Linked DNA regions of Homo sapiens. The protein of the gene in region 2 purifies or fractionates together with the protein of the main gene of each other region. This does not show direct contact. Each region holds a gene or a part of one and is shown on either strand. Other genes may lie near its edges.

Region 1 (12,554 bases), on a different chromosome or scaffold from region 2:
GCTAGTCCAAATTGAAATGTGCTGTAAGTATAAAATACAGACCGAAATCCAGAGTATGAAAAAAAACATAGAATATCTCAATAATTTTTAATAGTGGTTAATATTTTGGCTATAATGGGTTAAATAAAATATATTATTAAAGACAATTTCATCTTTCTCTTTACTTGTATAATGTGGTTTCTAGAAAATTCAAAATTACATATGTGGCTTGCATCCTATTTCTATTGGACAACATCGATTCAGTTTTTGCTCCCCCGTAAGGCATCAGAATATGTAAAGAAAACTGAGTTATATCTTCTTCAGTGATTTTTGCTCACAAATATCGTAAGAATAGGCACTTACAACCAGTAGAATGGAATTTGTGCACAGTACTTTCTATATTCAAATTATATCTTATTTAAGCATTTTAGGAATGTGTACTGGTTCATGCTATTGCAGTTCAAGCTTGGATGACTTTACAGCTGTCTGTCCTGCGTTCTCGAAAGCCCACCCTCACAGGGCAGACGTTTAAGCCTGTGATCCCGCTCACACTTCCACATCTCATCAGTTAGCTGGATTTTCCAGGAGGAATTAGCTGTGAAGCCTTCTGGGCTCCTCTCCTCAGACTGTGTGTAACTTACACTAAGACTGTGAGGTTCCAGAGGACAAGCCTCCAGTCTTGGTCTCATTTCTGCCCCACAGCATCTAGAATTGCTCTTTGCATAAAAGTAAATGCATGTGACAAATGTTGGTTACATATGAGTATCTGATGATTTAGGGAAAAGGAAGAATTTTTCCTCCTACTTTTTGTATTAGAGAAGTTTTAGTACATTAGACACTGACAGTCAACTGTGCTTCATAATTCATTTATTCCAATATCCCAGTGCCTGTTGGCTGCCTGGAACTGAGCTGGGGGCTGGGGATGTGGTGGTGAATAAGACAGGCACAGTGCTGAACTCATGGCGGATGAAAAACAAAACCACAAGTATGGCATGTGCCCCACTGAAAAGCAGCTGGGATTACAAGAGGGACAGTGACAGGGGAACCTAATGTGGTTGGAGCCAAGGAAGGCTAATAAGTGACCTTTACGCTGGACCCGAGGGAGCTGTTAGCCTAGCAAGGTGTTGGGGAAAGGGCAGGCTGACCATGCAGGGAGGGCCCCTTAAGCCATGTTAAAAATGAAAGTTAATCCTAAAGGCATGAAAAGCCATGGAAGGGTTTTACATAATATGACCAAATTTGCTTTTTAAAATATCATTCTGGAGATGGGCAAGAGTGGATGTAGGACCTTCACAGAGCATAGCCATGTATTCTTAAAAGCTAAACAAAATCACTTTGGTCATCACTTCAATAGGAACTGAGTTTTAAGAATAGAAAACATGTGTAAGCTCCACACCCCCAAGACGTGAAAGCCAGCAAGCACCCAGGAGCAGTAATCTAATACAGATGTACTCCCAAAGTACCCTCGAAGCATCAAATCCTACTGATTCCCCTGGCCTGTCCATGAACCCAAGATGTGAAAGCCAGCAAGCACCCGGGAGCAGTAATCTAATACAGATGTACTCCCAAAGTACCCTCGAAGCATCAAATCCTACTGATTGCCCTGGCCTGTCCATGTACCCAAGATGTGAAAGCCAGCAAGCACCCGGGAGCAGTAATCTAATACAGATGTACTCCCAAAGTACCCTCGAAGCATCAAATCCTACTGATTGCCCTGGCCTGTCCATGTACCCAAGATGTGAAAGCCAGCAAGCACCCGGGAGCAGTAATCTAATACAGATGTACTCCCAAAGTACCCTCGAAGCATCAAATCCTACTGATTCCCCTGGCCTGTCCATGTACCCAAGACGTGAAAGCCAGCAAGCACCCGGGAGCAGTAATCTAATACAGATGTACTCCCAAAGTACCCTTGAAGCATCAAATCTTACTGATTGCCCTGGCCTGTCCATGTACCCAAGATGTGAAAGCCAGCAAGCACCCGGGAGCAGTAATCTAATACAGATGTACTCCCAAAGTACCCTCGAAGCATCAAATCCTACTGATTCCCCTGGCCTGTCCATGTACCCAAGATGTGAAAGCCAGCAAGCACCCGGGAGCAGTAATCTAATACAGATGTACTCCCAAAGTACCCTCGAAGCATCAAATCCTACTGATTCCCCTGGCCTGTCCATGTAAATGTGTTACTTGGCATCAGGCCCTGTCCTAACCCAGGCCATATCTTGCTTATTCAGAACCAGCATTCAGTATCCACACTGGTTGGCCCAGCTCTAGGGTTCACTGAAAGGCTGAGTGGGCAAAGTATTTAGCAAACTGCACGAGTTTGGGAACATTCTTTGTGCTCTCCTGTGCCCAAGGACTGTCTCTCTGGGTGTCTGCCTAACTCTCAACTTTACCAGTTACCTGGTCTGGGCTCTATGGCCAGTGTCTACTCTCAGGGCAAGAAGCTGGTGGAGGGATGAAATTGTACCTGTTGTAAACAATTAAATGCAGGTTGTTTAAATTCTGTGGAATGATTACACAAAATTTTCGTTTTGTTCTGGACTCTTCTGGGTAGTACTTACTCATATATGTATGTGGCCTGCCCATACATAACTGTTTTTCTGAAACCAACCTCGAATTGCCTGTAATGGCCTTCATTGTTCTTAGTGGCAGATGTCCATTCAACTCTCAAATAGTCACAAAACCATTATATTGGCAGCCAATTAGCACATGCAATATTGTATTAAAAATGTCATTTCTAAACATTCAGATCTTCTCAATTACCTCCTCCTTTGATGTTTTTTATTAAAATAAAAATAAGCCTTAATCCCACAATTTCCTTTCTGAATTTCTCTGGTACTCTCTGAAAGGGAAGGACCCTTCACACCTAAATGAAATGGAGCCTACCCTTCTCAGAGGCAGGATCGTGCAACGTGAAGTGCAGAGACTTAGGAGGTAGTCAGACCTGAGTTCCAATCTTGTCTTCATCCCTTCCTAGGTGTATGAATGGGAAAGTTCCTTAAATTCTCTGACCCTTGTTTTTTCCTGAATAAAATGAGGCTAGCGTACTGGATTAGTTTTCTAGAGCTGTCATTTCAAATGACCACAAACTGGGCAGCCTCAAAGAAAAGAATTGATTCCCTCACAGTTCAGCATACCGGAAGTCTGAAATCAAGGTGTCGGCAAAGTTGGTTCCCTCTGGAGGCTCTGAGAGAATCCTTCCTCATGTCTTCCAGCTTGTGGTGGTGGCTCCTGGCATTCCTTTGCTCGTGACGTGTAACTTCAACCTCTTCTCATTCTTCACGTGGCCTTCTTTCCTGTGTTTCTCTGTGTCCTCTCCTCTTCTCATAAGGACACCCATCACTGGTTCTAGGGGCCACCCTAAATCTAGGAAGAGTTCATCTCAAGATCCTACATCACTACTTACATCTGCAAGGATTATTTCCACATAAGGTCACATTCCTTATAAGTTTAGTTCTGGATGGACCTGAATTTGGGGAGACACACAATGCAACCCACCACACCTACCTACAACAGAGCACAGTTCCATTATACTCAGGAAAACTGATGAGCTCCCACTGATAATTTGTGTTACAATGAATTTTTAGTCTATTTTCATACTAGAAATTCTTCAACTGTTTTTACTTTATATGGAGAAAAATGGTTACTTTTAAAGATGAGACAATGCCTCATATACCTAGCACTGCACTGAAAATGCATCAGTGCTCAATAAATACTATATTCCTCCTCCCACTGCCTTTCTCTTAGCCCTACAACCATGAGTTACAAGTACAACTCGTGAAAATCCCAGGAAATCATGGAGTACTTCAAGGTTCTAGGCAAAGATAAAGACCAAAACTTCTTGCCCCTATATAATGATTTCTTGCGGGGAAGCAGGGCGAGCAGTTCTCTTTCAGAACTTGACCTATGACAGTGGTTTAAACAGTAAGGAATAAATGTGCATCCAAGAGATCTTTGCATCTCTGTGAAAAACAGTGGTTACCAAGAAGGTTCTGGGTAAAAATAAGAAACCTGATTTTTGCAGTGCTTTGACAAATTTGCTAAGCATTTGAAAATGTATCTAGACCACTGTCAGTTAAATTCCTGGTTCCTATAGCTTATCACATTTTCTTCCATATTTTCCTCCCTCACATAAGCTCATTTCTAATGTGTTTTATGAACAAAAACAACAGCAACAAATATCCAGAAAGTTATTCCTACATAGTCTGCTCATCCTCAGAATAGCAGCTGGGCTGGTCATAGGTGAATAAGGATGGAAGGAAGCTGCAGCCAGCAGCAGGGGGCATAGAAAAGGAGCCAGCACTTAGTACAGCACACACCTGCTTCCTCTCAGCCCACACCCGCCCCCTTTTTTTTTTTTTTTTGATCACTTGTCCACTATTGCTCAGTATCCAAACTCATTGGGGCTGAAGCAGTTGTCTGCACCATCCTCTCTAGGACCATAAAATACACGGAACCCCAACCTGAAACTTGCAAAGAAACTAGCCTCAAGATTAAGGGGTATTCCAAATATTCACACATCTCACTTAAATACAACCAGCCTCACTTCCCGTTTCCGTGCCCTGTGGTTAGAAACTGACACACAGGAATGGTAATGAGGAGGTCTATCAGGTAGGCTGCTTTGCTTTGCTTTGCTTTGCTATACCTAGTGCCTACCGAAACTGCCCCAACTCTGCCTGGTCCTCTTATCAACATATAGCTCCGTTATCTCTATTACCACTTCTTTTTCTTAGAGTATAACAAGTTAGCAGGAACCAATGCTGATCTGTGATGTGCTTGGAGAAGAATCAGAATCAAGATCAACGCTCTGAAGACTTTGGTGATGCCCTATGAAGAAACCCTCTGTGTTTCATGAAAACGATTCACCTCCCTACTTTTTCACATCTTCTGGGAATCATTATATCTTACCTTAAACTATCCTAATTTTCCTTCTTACCATCTCTTGAAAGTTCAAACTGATAACAGTTTATAGCTACTCTGATATTATGTGTCACCTGAACTGTTTGCATACATTATTTGTTAAATATACCACAGTCAGATAAAATACCACAGATCTTCCAGTTACTTCAATGTGAGCTTTAAAAAGCCCTTCTCCCCAGTTAAAATGTGCTATCCATGAAGTCGCTAACCTCTCAGAAAAGTGGACCGAGGAAGCAACACCAAAAGAAGAAACACACCAAACTTAAAATGTCTATCAAAGAGAAACTAAAAGTTACCTCGAGGGATCCTTTAAACATATAAGATGATGCCTTACCTGGATTGGGTTGAAGGTATTCAATTGTTTTAGTCATTATTTCCATCACAGCCCTGCTGGTGACATCCACTTTCTGAAATGAGAAAATAAGTGCTCTAAATGACAAAAATGATGAGCTTTAGAATACCGGTTTTTGGTTGAGTCTGTATACAATGGCGGGGTATGCAACAGAGCCCCGGACAAGTCCCGCAGTAGGTGAGGGAGGCTGAGACGCGGCTGGAAGTCATGCTGACACTGTACTCAGCAGTGGTCTGCCAAGATGTGGAAAGCCCGTTTATCCAAAGAAGAAGCTTGTAGTTTCCTAAAATTTGTTTCAAAATATAATTCATTACCTTCTGGTGAAAATAAGGTGAATAAAATGAAACATATTTTGTCCCAGAGGCATTTATTGGATGCCTACAGTGGGTCAGGCATGGAGGCAGATTTTGCTGCCCTCAAGAAAGAATCATGCAGCATCAACTCTGCTTATTCAAGAAGTGGGGAGCTTTTTATTTAACTTCTAAGAACATCCTAAAAATATAAAATCTTGAGCAAAGACTTCTAGTCTGTCCTTGAACTTTTGGTTAATGCTAAACAAAAATCTTGATGCTAGAGTCTATCCTCCAAATTTGTTCTATCCTCTAAATTTCTAAATTTGGAATGGTCAGTGTTTGCCTTCAGCATCTCACCGTGTTCTCTTTGTCAGGCCCCTCTCCCCACTTGAAAGAGGTCATGGAAGGTGCTCACTGCAGTGCTCTCTGTCTTTCTCCAAGAAATCCTTTTCTTATCAGCATCTGTGGGCCTCCTATTCGCCCTACATGGTAAATGACTAATGAGAATAAATGCATCCTCCTATTCAAGGTATGTACATGTAATATATGACATAGGTATAAATGAAAGTGATTAAATTTTAATGTAGAAATTTAGGTATCAATTAAGTCCACTGGAGAAATTTTCTGTTTGTTAAAAGGCTCCCCCTTCAACTATGAGAAACTTTTCCATAACCTGCTGTACCTAGTGGTATATAATATATACCAGTATATAATATCAGTATATACCAGTATAATATCAGTATATACCAATATATACCGGTATATAATATATACCGGTATATAATATCAGCCTTGCATAAAGTAAGCCTCCTCCTTTTCCATAATCCACACATTAAAAGATTTTATCTTTCAGTTCAGTTTTTCAATACTTAATAATTTTTCATTCCATGGCAGTCATATTACTGTGTGTGTTTGCTATTACTAGGATCAACAGAGGAAAACAAATTTTTTCTTGTGAAGTTATAATGATATAAAATTATCTTTAGAAGGATGCAATTTCAAATGTGCCTGTCTACATATAAATCTTGTATAAATATCCTTTTGATTGATTCAAATTTCAAAGATCTTTAAGATTGAGTGTGTACCAGGTAGTGATTAGCTTAAAAATGCTCAGTAGCCCCCTGGAGTTGTGCAGTACACAACTTGTGAAGCCATATGTGAAGGTCCTAGTATTAGCAAAATTCCAAACAACCACTATGTACTCAAGTCATAGAATGTCTTATGCCAGGGAAATGGATCAAAGGTGTGTATGGAACAAATATGCTGAAACTCCATGGTACATGTGTGATAGAAGTACAAATGTAGATCTCCTGCTGCCTATGTGATGGGAATTAAGGAATTAGATGACAAATGTGTCTAAATATCCTGTAGTTATGATGAGAAGGAAAATCATTCAAAAAGCCAAGGTTTCTAAAAAAGAGTGCCATAGGAATTAAATTTTCCAATGGCTGTTTGATATCCTGATGTCATCTGCTGTTAAGGGGCTGACCAATTTCTAAGGTTCCCCCATCTCTGTCCTTAATAATTATAACAATCATCACCATAAGCTGTCTTCTGTTTGTCAGAAACTGTTCTAAGGACTATAAATATCTTTACACACTCAATGCTCACAAACTCTGTAATGTATATGAGAAAACAGATACAGAGGGGTTAAGAAACTTCCCCAGTTCTAGTTCCAGTGTGTGTGTTCTTAATGACCATCCTATACTTCTTGAAAGCAAAAGCTCTTCCTAAAAAGACAGGCAACAGAGGCATCTCCCAATCTGAAAGAGAGGCCAAGTCAGAGCTGGAATATGCTTTGTTCCCTCCCTAAGATGGGGCTGGGGACCTGGCAGTAGCCGGTGAAACAGCATCAGCAGGAAGGTACCTGCCATCCCATATTCTGTTTTTATTTTGAAACTTCTCAAAGTCTGTGGAAGCTTCATCCACAAGACTATTCCATCCTGGGCCTCTCTGGAAGGGAGGCTCTGCAATGCTGATCTGCTGAACCACAGGCCCTCAGTTTCACGGGTTTCCCTACAGAGACTGGTACCTGCAGTGTCTATCCCACCTGGCCCACAGGGAGGTGAGCAAGGAAGGCTGTGAAAGCTAGTTTCTCATTTTGGCTACAGAACCCCCTTCCCTTTTAAGCTCTGTGTAGGGAGCCCAACCACTCATGTAGTGTAAACAGACACCACTAGCTTGGCTGAAGCCAGTGGTCTCAGGGAAGACCCAGAGACCCTGGGGATACCAATATTAGATTATTACATTTGGTCCCCAGGGCAGGACTCCATCTTAAAAGAGAAGTAGGAATAAAAACTATTCCAGTGTCCCTTGTGACTTGTCTAAAGAAAGAGCTCATCCCACCCAGATGTTTACCGACTTTGTGCCCATTGAGGCAGACTCCTTCAACACTTTTGGTTACCTAGTCCAGGCATCATTACAGAGCAAGTTCTACCTAAACCCTTTTGACTACAACATAAAATAACCTTCGCTTGAAATCCACCACCTCTGAAAACAACTTTATTCAATACAGTTACATTTTTATTTCATTATCAGGAATTATACTAAAGAGGGACCCACTTTTGGCAAATCCATTCCTAGGCCCTTGCTACTGACTGCAATTTTTTTTTTTTTTTTTTTTTTTTTTTTTTTTTTGAGACAGGGTCTTACTCTCTCCCCCAGGCTGGAGTGCAGTAGAGCAATCTCAGCTCACCGCAACCTCCTCCTCCCAGGTTCAAGCGATTCTCCCTCCCCAGCTTCCCAAGAAGCTGGGACTAGAGGCACGCACCACCATGCCTGGCTAATTTTTGTATTTTTTGGTAGAGACGGGGTTTTGCCATGTTGGTCAGGCTGGTCTCGAACTCCTGGCCTCAAGTGATCCATCCGCCTTGGCCTTCCAAAGTGCTGGGATTACAGGCATGAGTCACTGCACCAGGCATGGCTGCATTCTTACAGATAATTACTTGATAGACTTCATGGACATAAGAGGAAGAGACCAGGGGAGCATTCTGTTTAACGCTTTAATTTATTAAATGTCCACACCTGTGGCCTAGAGAAGGGAAAGGAGCTCTTTAAGTGTGTTATGAGGAGAAAAGTAGTTCCCAAGGCCATTAATCAGAGGCTTTCTTTAAAAAAGTACCAGAAGAACTGAATGGTCCAATGATTAGTCACATTCTGAAGTCATCTGCCAGTAGGAGGCTGACTAATTTCTAACTTCTCTCCACCTCGGTCCTCCATAATAATGCCCAGGACTCTTTTGCTAAACTACACTGTGTCAGCCAGAGACAAGCTGAGGGCCATAACCCCATGAGACCCCTGAATGTGCCTTGTTATGCACTTGGCAGAAGAGTTATTTATATACCTAAGCTGGTAATATCCAAGTACATATTCTCTTAGTAACAGGCCTGATTAACTTAGCATAAAGAAGATTTCCACTTAAGTAACTTATTATAACTAGCAATTCCCATAAGCTCCCAGAATTGAGCTTATTGCCATTTGAGAACAGTACAGTTTAACTTTGAACTTATGACATGTAACTGTTATTTTTCTCAATGTCCAAAATTTCCAATTACTATTTGAAAGTAAGTTTTGATGCATCCTAAATTACAAGAATTTCTCATCTTATAAGCTCCTGAGCCTCCGTCTTCAACTAACCTTGCCTGGGATTGGTGTGAGGAGCCATTAGGGAAGGCTGTTTAAAGAAAGTGAAACTGTTCATATCCTTCGCCCACTTTTTGATGGGGTTGTTTTTTTCTTGTAAATTTGTTTGAGTTCTTTGTAGATTCTGGATATTAGCTCTTTGTCAGATGAATAGATTGCAAAAATTTTCTCCCATTCTGTAGGTTGCCTGTTCACTCTGATGGTAGTTTCTTTTGCTGTGCAGAAGCTCTTTAGTTTAATTAGATCCCATTTGTCAATTTTGGCTTTTGTTGCCATTGCTTTTGGTGTTTTAGACATGAAGTCTAATGCCTTGCCCATGCCTATGTCCTGAATGGTATTGTCTAGGTTTTCTTCTAGGGTTTTTATGGTCTTAGGTCTAACATTTAAGTCTTCAAAAAGGGGGCAAAGGATAGGAACAGACACTTCTCAAAAGAAGACATTTATGCAGCCAACAGACATATGGAAAAATGCTCATCATCACTGGCCATCAGAGAAATGCAAATGAAAACCACAATGAGATACCATCTCACACCAGTTAGAATGGTAATCATTAAAAAGTCAGGAAACAACAGGTGCTGGAGAGGATGTGGAGAAATAGGAACACTTTTACACTGTTGGTGGGAATGTAAACTGGTTCAACCATTGTGGAAGACAGTGTGGCAATTCCTCAGGGATCTAGAACTAGAAATACCATTTGACCCAGCCATCCCATTACTGGGTATATACCCAAAGGATTATAAATCATGCTGCTATAAAGACACATGCACACGTATGTTTATTGCGGCACTATTCACAACAGCAAAGACTTGGAACCAACCCAAATGTCCATCAATGATAGACTGGATTAAGAAACTGTGGCACATATACACCATGGAATACTATGCAGCCATAAAAAATGATGAGTTCATGTCCTTTGTAGGGACGTGGATGAAGCTGGAAACCATCATTCTCAGCAAACTATTGCAAGGACAAAAAACCAAACACCGCAAGTTCTCACTCATAGGTGGGAAATGAACAATGAGAACACTTGGACACAGGAAGGGGAACATCACACATGGGGGCCTGCCGTGGGGTGGGGGGAGGGGGGAGGGATAGCATTAGGAGATATACCTAATGTAAATGACGAGTTAATGGGTGCAGCACACCAACATGGCACATGTATACATATGTAACAAACCTGCAAGCTGTGCACATGTACACATACTCTAGAACTTAAAGTATAATAAAAAATAAAAATAAAAAAAAGAAAGTGAAACTGTAAATATATACAGATACAGGCATGTTTTTTAGGTAATAAAAACTTCCATTTCTACTTCTTTAAATGGTTGAAAAAATTTGAAATGAGACTACTATTTTACTGCACAAAATAATTATTCAAATTTCAAATTCACATTTCAGCATCCTTAGATAAAGTTTTGTTGGAAAACAGCCATACTTATTCATTTAAACGCTGTCAATGGACGCTTTTGTGTTTTGACAGCATTGGCAAGGAGTTGTAAGAGACCACAGAGACCCTCTGGCCCCAAAAACCTAAAGCACTTACAAAAAAATCTTGATTCCTGTGCTAGGTGCTAGCTTCACTAATAATAATGCCATGCTGAATCTATAGATGATACTGATTATTTCACCAGCTGTCTCAGTCTTTAGAGACAAGATACTAAAGAATAGAAGGCATGGAAATGACTAGAATGGGGTTACTCTTCCAGAGACATGGGAATATTACCTTTCTTCCCTGAAGAAAAGTTGGTATTTCCTGAACTTAGGTGTAAGGACTCGTGAACAGCGTGGCGTTGTTTGTGGAGCAACAAAAGGACTGAAAGATATGATTTCATACTATTAGATACCACATTATACCAGATGCTGTAGCAGAGCAAAAGTTTAAGAAAAACATAGACACCTTAAAGGGAGCACCAACACTTTGTGAGTTTAGTGATCATTAATATATAAATAAATTCAGTCAGTCATGGTGGCCCATGTCTGTTACCCCAGTGCTTTGGGAGGCCAAGATAGGAGGATTGCTTAAGGCCAGGAGTTCAAGACTAGCCTGGGAAAAAGTGAGACCCCATCTATACAAAAGATTTTAAAATTAGCCACAAAGATACAACAAAAAAGAAAACTTCAGGCCAAGGTCCTTGATGAACACTGATGCAAATCCTCAATACAATGCTGGCAAACCAAATCCAGAGGCATGTCAAAAAGCTTATCCACCATTATCAAGTAGGCTTTATCCCTGGGATGCAAGGTTGGTTCAACATATGCAAATCAATAAATATGATTCATCACATAAACAGAACTAAAGAAGAAAAACACATGATTATCTCAATAGATGTACAAAAGGTTTTCAATAAAATTCAACATTCATTCATGTTATAAAGTCCCAATGAGCTAGGTATTAAGGGAATGCACCTCAAAACAATAAGTGCCATATATGACAAACCCATATCCAACATCATACTGAATGGGCAAAAGCTGGAAGCATTTCCCCTGAAAACCGGCACAAGACAAGGATGCCCTCTCTCACCCCTCCTATTTAACATAGTATTGGAAGTCCTGACCAGGCCAATTAGGCAAGAGAAAGAAATAAAGCACATCCAAGTAGGAAGAGAGGAAGTCAAGCTATCCATGTTTGCAGACGGCATGATCCTATGTCCAGAAAACCCCACAGTCTCAGCCAAAAAGATTCTTAAGCTGATAAAGAATGTCAGCAAAGTCTCAGGATACAAAATCAATGTTCAAAAATCACTAGCATTCCTATACACCAAGAACAGTCAAGCCAAGAGCCAACTCAGGAACAATCTCCTTCACAATTGCCACAAAAATAATAAAATACCTAGGAATACAGCTAACCAGGGAGGTGAAAGTTATTTATTTATTTTATTTTTTTGAGACAGAGTCTCACTCTGCCGCCCAGGCTGGAGTACAGTGGCGTGATCTCGGCTCACTGCAAGCTCCACCTCCTGGGTTCAAGCCATTCTCCTGCCTCAGCCTCCCGAGTAGCTGGGACTACAGGCGCCTGCCACCATACCCAGCTAATTTTTTGTATATTTAGTAGAGTCAGGGTTTCACCATGTTAGCCAGGATGGTCTCGATCTCCTGACCTCATGATCTGCCCACCTCAGCCTCCCAAAGTGCTGGGATTACAGGCGTGAGTCACTGCACCCGGCCAAAAGTTCTTTACAAGAAGAACTACAAACACTGCTGAAAGAAATCAGAGATGATACAAACAAATGGAAAAACGTTCCATGCTCATGGATAGGAAGACTCAATATCATCAAAATGGCCATACTGCTCAAAGCAGTTTATGAATTCAATGCTATTCCTATTAGACTACCATTAAGATTCTTAGCAGAACTAGGAAAAAGTACTTT
Region 2 (12,554 bases):
GTCTGCCAGAGGGGGATGGCGGCTCTGCCCAGCACTGCCTCGGGGGCAGGCCTCAGGCTCATCAGGAAGTGGGGTTCCACTGGGGGCTGTGGCAGCCTCTCCAGGGACGTTGCTCCTCGTGACTTGGCAAACATTCTGAGGACTGAGCCTGTCACAGATGTACCAACTCGGGTATTTGGGGGTGAAGCCCAAGGCTTCCTGTGATGGCATGAGGGCTGCCGGATCCCTGGAGAAAGCTGAGGCTGTGAAGAACAGTCACATAGAGTGGCTCTGGCCGGGTGTCCTCCCTCCCACGGGCAGGCTGTGCAGAGCAGCCCTCCGCAGCCCTGGCTTGGAGTGACTGGGATGCTGTGCTCCCAGGGAAGCTCCTGTTGGAGATGAGGCCGCAGGAACTGCGGAGGTTTTGGTGTTTTGCCCTTCCGTGAAGTGAGCATTCCTCCCTCCTGCCCTCCTCCCCCTCCAAAGCCCCAGAACTTGGCCAATGCTGTTAGTCCGGGGCCTTCTGCCAGGACAGGCAAACGGGAAGTGGTCGGCACATTGTGGCGGGCCCTGAAGCTGCCTCCTTCCACAAGGGCAGGTCCATGGGCCTCTCTCCTGGCTCCCGAGCTCCAGGCCTGCTGTTCGTTGAGCATCCCTTGTGTGTGGCATGCCCAGCCCTGCCCCACATGGGTCTGCACACTTGCTATGGAGGCTGGGAGAGTTGCAGTGTCCCCTAGGTGGAAGGCCGAGGGCTGGTGCGGGGCACTTGCTGTCCGGAGCCGTTCTTCCTGCCCATGCCTTCGTGACTCCAGGTGGCAGAGCCCCTGTGCTCTCTGCATGCCCCCATGCTCAGGAACCACTTTTCCCGGTCAGTAGTTCCATGTGGGTCTGATTAGTCTCAGGAGAGTTCCTCTGCGGCCGTGGCACCAGCAGGACTTGGCACTCAGCAGCTGTGTGGAGGTGGGGTGCCAAGGGTGCCATGCCTTGAGCAGATACACGGGCTCCTGTGGTTGGGGGTTGGGGGTTTGGGCTCCTCAGAGCCTGTGCAACTCTCCCGGCTCCAAAGGCTGCAGAGTGAGGGTCAGCCTCCTGGACCTAGCCTGAGGATACAGGCAGTGGCCAGGAGAGCATACCACAGGTCAGGCAAAAGCTGGTGCCAGGGCCGAGGCTGGAGGGCGGGGGCATCGGAGGTCAGTGAGCAGCCCTGCTGGTAGGTGCAGATGAGGAAGCCAAGGCCTGGAAGGGAGAGAGGCTTGTCATGGCCACAGCTATCCCTGGGTGAGGCCTGCCCTCCGCCTGGCCTGTGGTATAGTGCTGGCAGCATGGGTGTCCAGTTCTGTAGGTCCTTACACAGAAAGCCCAGAGGAGATTTTTGCCTGCAAACAGTCTCTGAAATTATGAACCAAGTATCTTAGGAAAGTTGCCAAAGACCATGGTGAGGAAGAACGGGAGTGGAATGTGAACATAGACGGGGGGGCCCTTGAAGCCTACCAGGGGTGGGGAAGGTGGGTCCCACCTGGGGGCAGCACTTCGGGGAGGAAGGCACCATGCCTGGCTCTTTCTCTGCATCTGTTCCATCTTGAAGGCCCAGGGCTCCATGCCCAGCATCTGGCCTGGGAGGGCATCTCACAGGCCACAAAGAGATCCTCTTCACTTTGCAAAAAAGGCACTCCAAGTTCTAGAAGACTTACTGTGGTATTGAGGATTGGAATATTTTCAGCTGGGGAGCATTTTGAACTATTTTCTTTTTAAAAAATGATTTATTTATTTTGTAGAGATGGGGTCTTGCTATGTTGCCCAGTCTGGTTTCAAACTCCTGGCCTCAAGCAGTCCTCCCTCCTTAGTCTCCAGATTAGCTGGGACTATAGGCATGAGTCACTATGCCCAGCTCTACTGTCCCTTAACTATTTTAAAGTGTACACTTAACACTTGAGAGTAGGAAAATGTGGTCTTTGGCGCTTTCTTTGGAAGCCTCGATCACCCTGGGGCCACACTGGGGCCACCTGTCCAGAAACCCTCATAGATGAGCTGTGGTAAGGGGCCTGATGGAGAGGTTGGTGATGTGGGGATGGGGCTCAGCCCTGCAGTTGTCCCCATGGGCAGCCTCTGTGTGTCCATGCCATGGGGCATTCGGCATGGCAGGAGGGCATTTTAGATCCTGTGCCTCCTGGGCTGGTGGGCCCCGAGGTGAGCTGGGAACATACCCGTGATGCTGGACAAGAGCTGGGGCCTCCATGACCCCGCCTGCCAGGCACCTGAGGGGCTGGGTCCTGCAAGCTCCTGACCTGGCCGCAGCGGGCTACTGCGCACATCGCTAGCCTCCAGAAACAGGGCTGTGAGATCACCGGGCAGTGTCGGGGAGGACGCCCTATGGCTGTAGTCTGACATTCTCTCCCCTTGGCCTGCAGCACAGCAAAGGGAGACGTCATTTGCTACTATGGGAACCGAGGGGAGCCTGATCCTATCGTTTTGACGCCAGGTGAGCCTGCCCTGGCAGCCTGATGGGGTGGGGGACTGTTTCTATGCAGAGGTCACCCTTGTGCTTTTTAGAGACCAGGCACTTGTCATATTACTCTTCTGAGATGACTTTGTGGCCATTTAAGTGCCTTATGGTCTGTGGGCACCTTGCCCTGCACCTGGACACTTCAGAGAGCCCTGGCTCCCTGCTCACCCCCTCCCCATGGGCTTTTCCTGCTGAGCAAGGTGCGCCCCTGTTCTGGGCTTCCCACCGCAGCCCTGCAGCCCAGCCGGCCACCCCCAGCCTCACTTCCTGTGCCGTCCCAGTGTGCCCTGTGCCTGTTCCTTCTCAGAACCTCTGGAGCCATCACCACCTGGGGTTCTTGCCTGGTCTGCTCCCTGACGCACAAGTACACACCCCACTCAAGCCCCACACAGATGCACGCCTCCTGCACCCAGTCCCCAGTCTGATCCCCGGTCCCCATCCTCAGGGCCTCGAGCCCCTCTGCGCCAGGTCACACTCCACGGCTGGGCCCTTCCTGCCCTGGCTCTGCACCACTGCCCAGGCTGTGCCTCCTGCTACATGCCCTTCCTTTCCCCCTCCTCGGGTGCTGCGATTTCCTGGAAGCTTCCTCTGCCAGTGCCCCAACCTGGAGAGAATGTGTCACATTGCCCCCCTCTGCAGCCATGTTCTGGGAGGGAGGTCTGCATCTTGTCCCAGGTCTGGTGCCAGGACAAAGCAGCACTCCTGGGAAATGGCATTTCCCCTGGGTGCACAAAACTGTAGGGACCATAGCCTAGGTTCCGGGGACTGCTGGCTCACTCACTCCCACACTCGCTGCCCACAGACACTCCTCGCTGGTGGCATCGTGGAACTCTGTGCCTTAAACGCCCGCTCTGGTCCCTCTACTCAAGCTGCTGGCTCACACAGGGTGTTCCGGCGCCTGGGGAGTGTGTCAGTGCCCTTAGCGCCACCCACACCCCTCTGTGAGGGGGCTCCCTCACACCCCTGGCTCCTCTGAAGCTCCATGCCCACGTCACACAGACTTTCTTTTGCATTTGGCACAAATCACCAAGTGAGGTTGCAGGTCACAGGTGCACACCTTCCCACTGGGTGTACACGGTGGAACTGAAGCCCCAGGCGTCCCTGGAGGGGCCCGAGGGAGATGATAAGCAGTCCCCAGGACAGCTGAGTGGCCCCATCCCACCTGCATCTTAGGGGGCTGGTGGTGCTGACGGGCTCATCATGAGTCCTGTGGTCCTTGCCTGGCCCACACTGGAGCTGGCTTCCAGCTTCCCACGTCTGCCCAGTGATGTTTCATCCACAGATAGGCCCAGCCCCCATTTGCTAGGGTGGTGCCCAGACCCGAACCCCTGGGCTAGTTGGGATCTCCAGAGGAGGCATCTGCCTGGAGGGTGGCTTCCAGTGTGTCCCACCCACTGCCCCCACGCCTACCAGCTGGTGCCCTCTCCTCCACCTGGGGCTTATCCTTCCGGCCACCCTCTGTGACCCTGGTCTTCCCCTCCCTACCTTGGATACAACTGTGGGCAGCCCACCTGAGCTCCCAAGAGCTGGGCAGTGGCACAGACACAGAGACTACCAGCGAGGCAGGGATGTGGCCCCAGAAGGTCCTGAGCTTGCAAAGGATTGTTCTGGCTGTCTCAGCCAGCTCTTGCTGTTCCACCTGCCCCAGAACCTCCGCATCAGTTGAGGGTCGTGGGGTTGGAATGTGTGGCGAAGTAGGTCTGTGGCAGTGGAGTTGGGCCATGCTGAGCCTGTGACTGCCCAGGAGAGAATTGGAAACTAAAAGGTGCAAAAGCAGTCAGAGACTCCCTACCACCCCCTCACTGTGAACATTGGCCCAGCGGCCTCTGGGGCAGTCGCTGTAACCATCCACGTGGCATCCTCGGTTCTCAGAGGCTGAGACCTCCGTGGCTGGAGATGCTTATTTTCTGCTCAGTTGTTGTTCTGTAGAACTTATTTCTGTCTACATCCTGCCTCATCCCTGAGCCTGCCCCACCTGGTCCACATTGCCTTTTTTTTTTTGATAAAGTTTTATTGAGATATGACTGACTAGCGGCACAGTTCACCCATTTAAAGTGTATCATTCAGTAGGTTTCGTTTCATTCACAGAGTTGAGCAACTGTCATCACTACCTAATTCCAGGACATTTCTTGATCCCCAAAGAAAGCCATACCTGTCAGCAGCCACTCCCCATTCCCCGTCTCTTCAGCGCCTGCAACCTTTAATCTGCTTTCTGTCTCTGGATTTGCCTATTCTGGACACTTTGTATAAAGGGAATCCTATAATATGTAGTTTAGGGGACTGACTTTTTTCACTTAGTGTTGTCGTCTAAAAACTCACCAGTGGCGAGGCACGGTGGCTGACGCCTGTAATCCTAGCACTTTAGGAGGCCAAGGCGGGCAGATCACGAGGTCAGGAGATCGAGACCATCCTGGCTAACACGGTGAGACCCCATCTCTACTAAAAATACAAAAAATTAGCCGGGCGTGTTGGCAGGTGCCTATAGTCCCAGCTACTTGGGAGGCTGAGGCGGGAGAATGGCGTGAACACAGGAGGCGGAGCTTGCAGTGAGCTGAGATCGCGCCACTGTACTCCAGCCTGGGCGACAGAGTGAGATTGCATCTCAAAAAAAAAAAAAACAAAGAAAAACTCACCAGCATGGCTAAATGATAGAAAGGAGAGTTTTATTTGCCATATCAGTTTGCAGACCCGGAAGAGAGAGTCTCTAGCATGGACTGAGGTGCTCTCTTTGAAGAGGGGAAGGGCAGTTTGAGTTTTATGCCTCCCAAGGTCCATATCACACAATAGAGTCATACATATTCAGCAGGTTTGGGGAAAAGCCATACATATTTATGAGGGGACCCGAGAACATATGCAATAGATAAACATACATGTAACATACATCCCATGTTCACTTTGGGGCAGGGTTTTAGCATTAAAATGAGGTAGAATCTGGATCTTTCCATCAGAAGGTGAGCTCTAGGACACAGTTGGAGTGCAGCCTCTATGAACTGCTGAAACTGGCTTATGGTCTGTAGTTGCTTATCAGAAAAGAGTGTTTGAAGGCTGGTTCTCTGTCCAGTCAGGGTTGTGGTGGTCTGGGCTGTCAAGAGTTAGGAGGGTCTGATAACGTGTGTGATCTCTACTGTTGTGAGGGAGTTTATCAAGACTGTGGTTTTTCTTGTAGCTGTAGGAATTTAGGGAGTTGCTGAGACAGCTGCCCTGAACCCTCGAGCCAGTTGGTACTTTTTGTTTCTTCCCTTTATCCATTAATGGACACTTGAGTTTTTTCCACCTTTTGGCTGTTGGAAACAGTGCTGCTCACAGTGTGACCTCACAGCATTTGTGTGGTCATATGTTTTTATGGCTCTCATGTGAATACGTAGGAATGGAGTTGTTAAGTCGTATGGTAACCCTGTTTAACCTTTTGAGGAACATCCAAACTGTTTGCCAAAGCAGCCGCAGCATTATACATTCCCACCAGCAGTGTATGCGGGTTGCAGCTTCTCTGAATCCTCACCAAAACTTGCTATGTTCTGTGTTTTTGATGATAGCCACGATAGTGGGTGTGAAGTTGTGTGGACTCGTGGTTTGGTTTGCGTTTCTCTGATGGCTATGATGTTGAGCAGCTATTCTCATGCTCGTTGGCCATTTGTATGTCTTCTTTGGAGAAATGGTTATTCAGACTGGGTTGTCTTTTTGAGTTATAGGAGTGACTTATACATTCATTCTAGCTACAAGTCTCTTATTTAAAGCACAAAGCTTAAAATTTTTAAGTCCTATGTCTCTCTCTTTTTTTTTCTTTTGTTGCTCATGCTTTTGGTTTCTTATCTAAGAAACCATTGCCTAATCTAAGGTCATGAAGCTTTCCCCAATACTTTCTTCTTAGAGTTTTATAGCTTTTGCTCTTTCACTTAGGTCTTTGGTTTGACTTAAGTTAACTATTTTTTTTTTTTTGAGACAGGGTCTGGCTCTGTCACCCAGGCTGGAGTGCAGTGGTGCAGTCATGGCCCACTGCACTGTCAACCTCCTGGGCTTAAGAGATCCTCCCAGCCGGGCGCGGTGGCTCACGCCTGTAATCCCAGCACTTTGGGAGGCCAAGGCGGGTGGATCACAAGGTCAGGAGATCGAGACCATCCTGGCTAAACCGGTGAAACCCCGTCTCTACTAAAAATACAAAAAATTATCCAGGCGTGGTGGCGGGTGCCTGTAGTCCCAGCTACGTGGGAGGCTGAGACAGGAGAATGGCGTGAACCCGGGAGGTGGAGCTTGCAGTGAGCCGAGATTGCGCCACCGCACTCCAGCCTGGGCGACAGAGTAAGACTCCGTCTCAAAAAAAAAAAAAAAAAAAAGAGATCCTCCCTCCCAAGTAGCTGGGACTGCAGATGTGTGCCACCATGTTCAGCTAACTTTTATGTTTTGTAGAGATAAGGCCTCACTATTTTGCTATTTTGCCGAGGCTGGTCTTGAACTCCTGGGCTCCAGTGATCCTCCTGCCCCAGCCTCCCGATGTGCTGGGATTATAGGAGTGAGCCACCTCTCTTGACCTGAGTTAACTTTTGTGTATGGTGTCAGGTAGAGTCCAACTCCCTTCTTTGCCCATGACTATGCAGTTCAATGGTCTTCCATGTTGTTCATGATGGAAAAAGCACTGTGACACCTGGGGCTGGCGGCTTGGCTCTGGGGGCCCCAGCAGAGCCAGGCTGTCTCCCTGGGAAATGCCTCGGCCAAGATATTCTCCTGGAAGTCTGACAGGGAGAGGGTGGTGTCTTGGTCTCCCTGGTGCATCATTTGGGGTGCTTGGCTCCCATCAAGCCCACCCCTGCTGCCCTGGCCTCTAGAGAAGAGCCTCTGAGGTGAGGTGCTTCTCCACCTCAAGTCCCTGCCCTTCACTTTCTGTGACATGAGAAACCCTTTTCCTGTTGGCCATGCCTTCTGCCAACACTCTGGGAGCTTGTTCAGAGTCTGTGCAGAGCCCCCCGGCTCTCCTAACCTGGGGCCTGGCTGGTACGCAGAGGTGGGCCATGCTCTGCTGAGGCCCAGCCTACACCTGTGCCCACTGTGTGGCGCTGTTGGGGGTTCCCCAAACAGGGACATGATTGTGGTGGGTGCCTCCTGGCCTCTGGTGGCTAATTCTCCCACTCTTGAACTTCTCAGGTGGCCCCCCAACCTGGCGTGAGGTGAAGAGGTTCCCTCTTGGCTGTCCCCTTTGCCTGTGAGATCTCAGGTTGCTCATTTCTTATTCATCCATCCATCGAGGCTGCTGGGCATCTGTGCCTTGTGGTCTCCTGTGGGTGCCCGCTTCCGCCTACTGCTGAGTTCTCCTCTCCTTGCCATGCCATCAGGTCAGGAATGAGCATGGGGAAGGAGCTGGAGCATGGAGCGGCTTGGCCTCAGTCTGGCCTGATTTCATGGTCCCCAGCTGTACCCCGTGTTAGGTGGGTGGCAGGTGGCAATTTGCCCTGACATGGCACAGCAGGGCCTCTGCATGGCCCGCTGATTGCTCCTCACAGGCACCTACGGGCTGAGCAACGCGCTGCTGGAGACTCCCTGGAGGAAGCTGTGCTTTGGGAAGCAGCTCTTCCTGGAGGCTGTGGAACGGAGCCAGGCGCTGCCCAAGGATGTGCTCATCGCCAGCCTCCTGGATGTGCTCAACAATGAAGAGGCGTGAGTGGGCGGGTCCTGCTGGGGTGAGCCCCAGTGTCCCGCCACCAGGGCAGAGGGAAAGGCAGGCCCTGCTGCCCCGGGAGGCCCATGGAAGTGGCCAGGCTGGGTCCCCAGCTGCAGGGAAGCTGATGGATATCCTGTCCTCCCTGCCTGTCCCCTTGAGCCAGCTGAGGTTTCCAACACCAGGGACTTTTGATGACAGAAGATGGGCCCAGGCCCAGGCCCAGGCCCAGGGGAGGCTCAGTGCACCCAGAGGCTTGATGCAGCCACGTGGGGCCCAGAGCAGATGGATGCTCCCCTCTGCATGCCGAGAGCTTGTGGGAAGTTCCAGAAGATTCTAGACACTCAGCAAACCCAGGCGGAAGAGACACATCATGGAAATGAGTGGCTAGGGTCAGCACGCTCAGGGTTGATGGGCTTCCCGCAAGCGGTCTGTCCCCAGCGACCCTGGGCTGAGTGCTGGGCAGGGACTTGCAGTTCCGGGAACTGCCTGGGTGTAGGAGCTCCCACCCACTTCCTTGCCCGTAGGCCTCAAGGCCCCTCAGGGGCCAGGCACTGGGGTCTTCGTTGCCCCAGCCGGGGGTCCTGGTGCTTGCCATGCCAGCCTTTCTCCCACTGGGCGAGATGCCCCACCCATCCCTCGCTCCCCACCCAGGTCAGACCACTGCCCTGCCCAGGTGATCCAGCGTCCACTCCCACCCTGTCCAGCTTGCCCCCTTCAGAGAAGCACCCATGGACCATCTCCCACTCCTCCCCCTGGGGCCCCTTTCTGCCCCCTGCCTACCCTCCTTCTCCTCTGGGCCTCTGATAGGCGGCCTCGTCCTTCAGCCTCAGCATCGCTGCCTCACTGGAAGAGCCCCACCTGGGCATGCCCAGCAGCCCCTCCCAGCTGTAAGTCCACACAGCCCCCATCAATGTGCCATCTGGGGCAGGCCGAGGACCGGCCCTGGCTGCCCTCACTGATGGCTGGAGCCCCGATGCTAGCTACAATGGCTGGCTTGAGTGGACTTCTGTCACAGAGGCAAATGCCCACAGGGCACCTCTTGGGGCAGGCAGGGAGCTTGTATGTGCCATCTGGGGCCAAAGCTCCACGATTGAGTCATAAGTTAAGGGTAGATGGAGATTTTCCGCCTTGAGCAGAAACGTGGAGGAAACACGCCTGGTGTGTGACTCACGCCTGTAATCCCAGCACTTTGGGAAGCCGAGGTGGGCGGATCACCTGAGGTCAGGAGGTCAAAACCAACTTGGTCAACATGGTGAAACTCTGTCTCTACTAAAAACACAAAATTAGATGGCTGGGTGGTGCACGCCTGTAATCCCAGCTGACGGCTGGAGCCCCGATGCTAGCTACAATGGCTGGCTTGAGTGGACTTCTGTCAGGAGAATTGCTTGAACTCGGGAGGTGGAAGTTGCAGTGAGCCAAGATCGTACCATTGCGCTCTAGTCTGGGCGACAAGAGTGAAACTCCTCCTCAAAAAAAGAAAATAAGAGAAAAGAGAAGAGAAGAGGAAAAAGAAAAGAAGAAAAGAAACAACCCTTGCAGTTCCCCGGCCACTCCCCAGAGCCAGTTAGGCCACCAGGTGGGCTGGGGCTAGACCCGGCTGCGGGCGGGCCACAGAGGGACTAATGGCCACCACTTCTCTCCATCCTGCAGGCAGCTGCCAGACCCGGCCATCGAGGACCAGGGTGGGGAGTACGTGCAGCCCATGCTGAGCAAGTACGCGGCTGTGTGCGTGCGCTGCCCTGGCTACGGCACCAGGTATTGCAGCACCGTGGGTGCGCCACCTCCTATCCCATGTCCCACCTCCCACGCTAGAGGGCCGGCAAAGAAGCCAAGTGCCCATAGCCAGAGCCAGGCTTCTTCCTCGCCTGAGTGGATTCCAGAGCTTCTGCCCTGTCCAGACGCAGCTGCAGGGTGAGCAGATACCACAGGCTCCCGGGGCCCCACAGGCTGGGCTTAAGGAGCCAGTACACAGCCACACAGGGCCAGGATGGCTTCAGGGCTGCCTGCACATTGGTGGATCCCTGCGGGCAAACGCCCCGGCACCATGGCACTAGGCCTGCAGGCTGTACCCTTGGGTGGTGGCTGCTGGCCAGCCTTTCCTGCCTGGGGCTGGCTGGCCCATTGGCAGGTGCAGGGTGTCATTTCCTTCAGCCCCTCCTCTGTCATAGGCTCATCTTCCTGTGTGTGAGGGGAAGGCAAGTGCCAACTCCACTCCCTGGCAGGCCGCATAGCCGCTGGGTCCCACCCCACGGGGTGCACTGCGTATGTGTCTGCCCTGGGAACCAGCCTGTGCTGGGGCTGTTGGGGGATCCAGGGCCACCCTCCGTCTGCAAAGCCCACGGCAGAGAGGGTTGGAGGAGAGGAGAGTGTGCTGAATGTTTGCTTCAGGTGGGCTGGCATGGCCTGGGCAGTGGAAGAGAGGGCACAGGAGGGAAGCCTTCCAGACAGAGGAGGCCTGGGCCCCAAGTGGTCAACAGCTTGACCTCTTGGAAGAACCAAGCATGGCTGTGTCTGGGAACCTGGGCCTCCAAAGGGGAAGTGTGTGGTCAGCCCGCAGGCTGCCCTATGCCTTGGCTCATGCTACACGGGGAGAGCAGGGCAGGGTGGGGTGGTTCCCAGTGAAGGTGGCAGGACTCAGCAAGTGTGGGCCTGTGGAGCCAGCCAAGAGCTCACACGCCACTGATGGCCCCTCATCATCCCCAAGACTGAGGCTGCTGCTCTCTGTGACTTGGCACAGCCTCCAGGCATGGGGTTCCTAACTCTACCTGCCTGCATTCTTGCCCTATTTGTGGCTGTGACAGGCAGGGCAGGGCTGAGGGACACCAGGTGAACGAGGGCCCCTGCTCTCTTTCAGAACCAACACTATCATCCTGGTAGATGCGGACGGCCACGTGACCTTCACTGAGCGTAGCATGATGGACAAGGACCTCTCCCACTGGGAGACCAGAACCTATGAGTTCACACTGCAGAGCTAACCCCACCTCTGGGCCTGGCCAGTGGGCTCCTGGGGGGCCCTGCCTTGAGGGGCACTGTGGACAGGAAACCTTCCTTTGCCATACTGCATTGCACTGCCCGTGGCTTGGCCAGCATCCCCCGGATCAGGGCCCTGTGGTTTGCGTGTTACCCATCTGTGTCCCCATGCCCAGTTCAGGGTCTGCCTTTATGCCAGTGAGGAGCAGCAGAGTCTGATACTAGGTCTAGGACCGGCCGAGGTATACCATGAACATGTGGATACACCTGAGCCCACTCTTGCACATGTACACAGGCACTCACATGGCACACACATACACTCCTGCGTGTGCACAAGCACACACATGCAAGCCATATACATGGACACCGACACAGGCACATGTACGTGCACAGGTGTGCTACACATGTGCACACATGCACAGTTGCACAGACACACACACACAGGTGCACACACACGATGCCGAACAAGGCAGAAGGGCGACTCTCACCTCTCATGTGCTTCTGGCCAGTAGGTCTTTGTTCTGGTCCAACGACAGGAGTAGGCTTGTATTTAAAAGCGGCCCCTCCTCTCCTGTGGCCACAGAACACAGGCGTGCTTGGACTCTTGACAAGCAGACCTGCTCCTGCAGAGGAGACAGCCACATTTGGAATTGGGCACCGAGAAGACCTGAGAAAAACCCACTCTCTCTTTTTTTTTTTTTTGAGACGGAGTCTTGCTCTGTCACCCAGGCTGGAGTGCAGTGGCACGATCTCGGCTCACTGCAACCTCCGCCTCCCAAGTTCAAGCAATTCTCCTGCCCCAGCCTCCTGATTAGCTGGGATTACAGGCGTGTGCCACCATGCCCAGCTAATTTTTGTGTTTTTAGTAGAGACGGGGTTTCACCATGTTGGTCAGGCTGGTCTTGAACTCCTGACGTGGTGATCCACCTGCCTCGGCCTCCCAAAGTGCTGGGATTACAGGCGTGAGCCACCACGCCTGGCCGAAAAACCCACTCTCATAACAGAAGTGCAGACTCATTGCTAGATTCAGTGCCCTTGAGTGTGCCAGAGGTCCTCTGTGTTTGAGACAATCCTGTGTGTGCCAGGAGGCTCCGTGTGCACCAGGGGCTCTCAGAATCCCGCTTACCCAGCTGGAGACCATGCCTCTGGCAGCCCCATCTCAGCCAGCCCTGCTCTCTCCCTCTTCCCTCCAGGTGAGGCAAACTTCATAGGAATCTGTACCTGAATGTGAGCTCCTGATAATAAAACTCTGAGGCTTTGGTGAGCGCATTTCGAGGCCTTTCCCTTGTATGCAGGGTGCCAGTGGGAGCTGCTATGTCTCCTGTGCAGCCAGACACCCTGGACGAGGCCCTTCCCACCTCCCCCTTTCCTCACGGCTTCTTCAGCACCACATGTGGATGCCTGTGGGTCAGTCCATCTGTCCATGGGCAGGGGCCGCTGTGAGAGACCCCA

What was found.
Region 1: the proteins of TANGO2 (region 2) and SH3GL2 purify together in Homo sapiens (affinity purification with mass spectrometry; 3 studies listed by BioGRID and IntAct, with this or other methods). This does not show direct contact.

Annotation. Positions count from the first base shown.
Region 1 is NC_000009.12:17,754,189-17,766,742, reverse strand, and holds part of SH3GL2 (endophilin-A1), read right to left. Parts: intron 5,307-12,554; coding exon 5,234-5,306; intron 1-5,233. UniProt on the Homo sapiens protein: Implicated in synaptic vesicle endocytosis. May recruit other proteins to membranes with high curvature. Required for BDNF-dependent dendrite outgrowth.
Region 2 is NC_000022.11:20,053,556-20,066,109, forward strand, and holds part of TANGO2 (transport and Golgi organization protein 2 homolog), read left to right. Parts: intron 1-2,387; coding exon 2,388-2,458; intron 2,459-7,618; coding exon of another isoform or gene 7,619-7,680; exon of another isoform or gene 7,681-7,934; intron 7,935-7,940; coding exon of another isoform or gene 7,941-7,974; coding exon 7,975-8,128; coding exon of another isoform or gene 8,129-8,132; exon of another isoform or gene 8,133-8,151; intron 8,152-8,939; coding exon of another isoform or gene 8,940-9,019; intron 9,020-9,782; coding exon 9,783-9,887; coding exon of another isoform or gene 9,888-10,043; intron 10,044-10,986; coding exon 10,987-11,107; 3' UTR 11,108-12,554. UniProt on the Homo sapiens protein: May be involved in lipid homeostasis.